2 separate regions of the Homo sapiens genome follow, and region 1 is linked to region 2. Evidence: fine-mapped expression QTL. A gene starts in region 2. The other region holds a variant in brackets. All regions are shown on one strand. Distances are between the middles of the regions.

The links. PIP is the estimated chance that this variant, and not a neighbour inherited with it, causes the effect. A credible set is the group of variants that fine-mapping cannot tell apart.
Region 1: its variant is the best candidate, but not a certain one, in a credible set for the expression of SAP25 in whole blood (TOPMed, PIP 0.84).

Annotation. Positions count from the first base shown.
Region 1 is chr7:99,859,542-99,862,448 of GRCh38, reverse strand. CYP3A43 (cytochrome P450 family 3 subfamily A member 43) reads right to left here. Exons shown (of 13, transcript NM_057095.3): 10 at 2,459-2,619; 11 at 610-836. Among named protein-coding and RNA genes, the nearest start is that of OR2AE1, 16 kb to the left of the region's middle. RefSeq lists a silencer at 1,977-2,177. The variant T/A (reference allele first, on the strand shown) is at 1,525.
Region 2 is chr7:100,572,860-100,575,717 of GRCh38, reverse strand. SAP25 (Sin3A associated protein 25) reads left to right here and starts at 1,818. Exons shown (of 6, transcript NM_001348680.2): 1 at 1,818-2,121; 2 at 2,318-2,421; 3 at 2,506-2,612; 4 at 2,705-2,858. The coding sequence starts at 1,976. LRCH4 (leucine rich repeats and calponin homology domain containing 4) reads left to right here. Exons shown (of 18, transcript NM_002319.5): 17 at 1-13; 18 at 414-1,707. The coding sequence ends at 611. RefSeq lists enhancers at 1-399, 400-954.

The sequences.
Region 1 (2,907 bases), 710 kb after region 2:
ACCAGGAGAACCTCTGCTTCCCTCTGTCCTCAATGAAGTGGCTTAAACCATCAGGGATGAGGATGTCTCAGGATCTCAGCCTGCACTTTCACAGTTACATTACGGAAAACAGCAAGCAATGTTGAAAGAAAAAGGAATGTGGAAACATGTCCTAAACGTGGTGCTAAATTCAGAGAGCTAAAGGGCACAGCAAAGAAAAACTGAAATGAATAACAAGCTTATATACTCAAAATAACATTATGGTGAAATGAATTATAGCTTATGCATATAGAAATATGTAGTAACGTAAGATAGTAGATAGGTAATGGTTTACTTTGAAATGAAGTAAGCAGCAGTTCAAACTCAAATAAAATGTGATAGTATACTAGTTTTTAAAAATGTCTATGCATAGAAAAATGCCTACAAGACAGGCATTACATAGTTAATGAGGGTTGTTATAAGGTGTTTCTTAATCTATGGTTTGTAAAGTTTAACAGTTATCATTTTGTAATAAAAAACTTCCAAAATGAAAAGGCACATATTCAAATGATTGCCATGTGCATCGAGAGAGGCAGAATATACTTGAATCAGGCTGGTTGAGGGAAGGCTCCTTTCCCAGGGGCCTTGTACCTTTCAGGGCAGAACTTCTCAGGCTCTGTCCAGTACTTTGGGTCATGGTGAAGAGCATAGATTGGAACCATCACTGCTAACCCTTTGGGAATGAACACTCCATTGATTTCAATATCTTTCTTGCAGACTCTCGTAACTCTACTAACAACTGGGAATAATCTGAGCGTTTCATTCACCACCATGTCAAGGTACTCCATCTGTACCAGGGCATCGTAGGTGACAGGTGCCTGGGAAGAAAGAAACAGATTTGGATAAATTGAGATTGGGAATTAACTTTCAACTTAGTCCATGCAGTACTATTGAAGTGTTAGGAGCTCCAGAGAATAATTCATTCTGGTAAAAGATTGTTGCATTTATAAATTATTTTAATAATTCTCCATACCCAGTGATGTGCTCGATGGCCCATTGAGATGTGTGGAGGAGTTATGAATTTGGCACAATCACTTACACAGAGACTGAAATCCTTGACATTACCATTTCGTGTTTTTTCTTTCTTGGGAGAACAAACATGACTAATAGACGATGGCCATTTGAATCACCTAAAATATGCCAAAGCCAGTGTCACCTTTCCAAAGAGAGGCTATGCATCTGTACCAAGGAAAAAGAAAATGTAAAAAGCAAATCCTCTATTTCATACAAGCATTTAAAATGGAAAAGTCCTGTTTAGGCCAGGCATGGTGGCTCATGCCTATAATCCCAACACTTTGGGAGGCCAAGGTGGGTGGATCACTTGAGGTCAGGAGTTTGAGACCAGCCTGGCCAACATGGTGAAACCCTGTGTCTACTAAAACTATAAAAATTAGCCGGGCATAGTAGCGCACGCCTGTAATCCCAGCTACTCAGGTGGCTGAGGCACGAGAATCACTTGAACCCTGGAGGCGGAGGTAGCAGTGAGCCGAGATCACCCCACTGCAG[T/A]CCAGCCTGGGCGACGAAGCAAGACTCCATGCAAAAAAAAAATGTGGAGAGTAACACTATGTTATATAAAAACCCTATAAATAGTTTGGGGATAAACTAGTTCTTTTGTAACCCAAATATGACAAAAGAACTTTATAACTGGACAGGGCACACAATTTCAGTGCTACTGAGAGTTGTAAACAGGATAGGAACCCTCCGGGCAGCCCCATCCTGTCTTTCTCGAACAATTTCCCACTTGTTCCTTCAGGCCTGGACTATGAACTTAGATGAACATTCCTTTGTGTTCACCTCACTGCCAAACCAGGGCCAGCCCCAAGGCCAGATCTCGTTACACCATAAAGAATTCCAATTTGGGCAGAATTCTGGAAACAGTGTGGGTAATACGTGGCTAGCATTTGGTGTTATATTTGGAAGGTAATATTGTAGAGGTTAAATGTTTGGCCCAGGCGTCAGGCACCCTGGGTCCTAGCTTGGCTTCTTCACCACTAGCTACTTGACTGGAGCAGAGAGAGGTGTGAGGCAGAGCTGAGTCAGCCTGCCCAGCGCACCCAGGGCCAGGTTCCATCAGACCACTGCCAGACCACAGCGAGTCCAGCCAATATCAGCAGAGCTCACTATCCAGACTTGTGAGCAATAAATGATTGTTTTTAGTTGTCATTGAGATTTCTGGATATTTTTTACTTGGTGTTATGTTGCTAACAGACAACGGATGCAGCAGGACCAGCACTGTTTCACAAAGATCTTACACTTACGCAAGAAGCATCCACTACCTACGATTCTCCCTTTGTTTTTACTCTTTACAGCCTTTCTGCATAGTGTAAATGAAAGAACTGATGCTTACGCTTTTTGCAAAAATTGTCCTGGCAAGTGGTGAGGAGGCATTCTTGCTGAGGCTTCACCTTCTCCCTCCTTCTCCAGGGGATCATCCCCTTACCTTATTGGGTAAAACTGCGTCAATCTCCTCCTGCAGTTTCTGCTGGACATCAGGGTGAGTGGCCAGTTCATACATAATGAAGGGGAGAGTGGTGCTAGTTGTGTCATAGGCAGCAAAAATGATGATAATTGACTGGGCCACAAGCTCCAGATCAGACAGAGCTGAAAGGAGAGGAAATATATTTTAGGAAAAGTGGTTAGTGTAGAGCATCACAGTTTAGATGAAGCAAAATTCCAGTGAAGCTCCCAAATCCCTAAGAGCAAAAATAGAAAAGCAATTCAGAGTCACACTGCGGGTGGCTTCACTCTGATGTGTATCCTACAGAGCCAGAATAAGGCAAAGTCACTTTAATCCAGTTTTTTTTCCAGGGTCTACACGATTGTGGGCCATTCACTCCTCATCATACCATCCCCACCAGCTGCACAGCTGGGTAACTTTCAAAGAGAGCA
Region 2 (2,858 bases):
GGGGGTGCCTGAGGTATGGGGGCTGCTTTCTAAAGAGTGGTGGCATGCCGGACTCAGCCGAGCATGTGGCATGGATGGTGGGCTTCCATTTGCAGCGGATGTCTGCTCTCAGATGAAGGCACAGGCTGCCCCTGCCCTGCCCAGCATGCCCCCTGCCCTGCATGCCCCCTGCCCTGCATGTCACCTGTCCTACACATCCCCTGCCCTGCAGGCCCCATCTTGTCCTGCATGTCACCTGTCCTGCACATGCCCTGCCCTGCACTCCTCCTGCACTGCACTCCCCCTGCCCAGCACGTCAGCATGTGGGCGTGGTTCTGGCCCCAGCACGTGAGGGCAGGGGTGGGAGGGACTGTCCTGCTGCTGCTGCTGACGTCTGTCCCTTGTCCTTGTCCACCTGCTCTCCTCTCCCCCAGGCTGACCTGTGCTCGCCCTCGGATCTCCTCCAGGGCACTGCCCGGGGGCTGCGGACCGCGCTGGAGGCCGTGAAGCGGGTGGGGGGCAAGGCCCTACCGCCCCTCTGGCCCCCCTCTGGTCTGGGCGGCTTCGTCGTCTTCTACGTGGTCCTCATGCTGCTGCTCTATGTCACCTACACTCGGCTCCTGGGTTCCTAGGCCCCAAAATCGGCCCTCCCTCACCCCTTTCCCTTCCTCTCTATTTATAAGGTCCCTGCTCCACCCGACCCCACCTGCGGTGCCTTCAGCCCCAACCAAAGACACTAGTGCACCCCCTTCACAGACACTGACCTCAGAGGCCCCACTCTGGTGCCCCCAGACCCTGGGCCCCCAGCCTCTGGCCTCCCTCCAGTAGCCCCACGAGTCCCCACCTCTCAGTGCTGACGGTGCCTTCATGTCCCCGCCGGCCCTGCCCCTGCCCTCTGTACCCCGTGAGGGGTGGCAGGAGCTGGAGTCTCCCCCTTCCTCCTGTGCCCTCCCCTTCCCCCCCCAACAGCTGCTATGGGGGGGCTAAATTATCTCTATTTTGTAGAGAGGATCTATATTTGTAGGGGTTCGGGGCCCAGGCCGGGTCCCTATCTCTGTGTATAAACTGTACAGACCGTGGCCGCCCTGCCTGTGTGTGTGTGTGTGCGCGCGCGCGCGCGTCTGCTCCGCGTGTTGGTGGCTGTGGCCATGGCTCTGTGCCCACCAGCATCTCCCTCCTGAGATGCCGGCCTCTCATGCTCCCGGAGCGTCCGCCAACCCCCCGTGTCACCTCCCTTCTGTTATCGCTGACAGCTTTCTTGCGTCTCATTTGTCGCCGAGCCCCGAGCGCACGGTGATGCTCGGGTCTGCCCCCGACCCCCTGCCACAGGCCGGAAGCCGCAGGGGGCACCGTGGGGAAGCTAACCCGGCCCCTTCCCCCAGGAGTCACTGTGCCAGCCCCACCACATCCTGGAAGAGGAGGGGGCCCCGGGAAGGGGCCTCCCCTACATCGCTGCTGTCGTCCACGCCCTGCTGGACCGGCCTTAGGGGTGAAGGTGGGGGCACAGGGCCCACCCCGCCCGGGACCCCGGGAGCAGAAGACGCGCCTGGGCTCCGCGCTCTCAGAGAAGCACGTGGTGAGGGTGGCCTGGGCCTGGGCACCCTTGGCCTGCCGGCCTGGCTGCCTCTGGGGTCGAGGGTCTGGGTGGAAGGACCGCGGGTGTCGCAGGTGTCGTGTCAGCCGCAATAAACAGAAGCCAGAAGCCCTCTGGGTGGCCCTCAGGTGTAACTGTGTCTGAGAGCACGTGCGTCGCGGGGTTGTTGGGGGGGCCTCTGTTTCCGGAATTCACCGCCCAGTCGCCAGGGGGCGCCCGCGGGAGCCCGGCGGGGGCACGCGCCACGTGGCCGGGAGACGCACAGGGCGCCAGCGTCGCCGCGAGGCCTCTGGGGTGGGTTCGCCAGGAGGGCACGTTCGCGCCGCGCCGCGGAGGGAGGCTGAGAGGGCCGGGCCGGGCGGCGGGGACACGGCGGTACCGTCCTGCGCTCGGGAACGCGGAATGTTGCCCTGGTCGCCGCCGCGGTGGGGCGCGGGCCCGGAGGAGGCGCCCGAGGGACCAGGCCTTCCGGCGGGCAAGGACCAGGGCGAGCCCTGGAGCGCCGGAGCGGACGCCCCCAGGGAGCTGGGGACACCCCCATGGGACAGGTGAGGGGCTCGGACGGAGCCGTGGGGGGACAGCGACTGGGGGCCTCCATGCCTTCACCACGCGCTCTACGGAGGCTTCTCCATTGTCCCTGCTGGAGATTGGGTCCCTCGGTCTCCCTTGCACCAGGCACCCTTGGGCTCCAGGGGAGGGTGCGTGGGGGCGGTGTGGCTGCAGCCTCAGTCCCTGCCCCTCCAGCCCACAGCCCCCATCCCGTAGCCCTTCCTGGATCTGGAGAGAGCAGCTGCTGCTGCCCCACCACCTGCCAGGCCCGGCCACTGAGCAGCCCCCCGGAGCCCCAGGTAGGACAGGCCCTGCTGCCTCTACTACCCCTAAGAGCCTCTCACTGACTGTGAGCCTGTTATAATCCCCAAGCGTCCCCCCAGATCCCCGTTCCCCCCAGGTGGCCTGGGAGGTGGCCCCCTCGAGGATGACTCCACTAGCGCCCTGGGACCCCAAGTATGAAGCCAAAGCAGGACCTCGGCCGGTGTGGGTGAGTTGGGGGCAAACCTGTGGGACTGGCTGGGGTGCTCAGGGAGCTGTGCGGTGGCCTGAGGCTCCAGTGCTCTGTCCTCCTCACCCTAGGGGGCCAACTGTAGCTCAGGAGCCTCGTTCTCAGGCCGGACGCTGTGTCACCCCTCATTCTGGCCGCTGTATGAAGCAGCCTCGGGCAGGGGTCTCAGGCCCGTGGCCCCTGCCACAGGGCACTGGAATGGACAGCAGGCGCCCCCAGATGCAG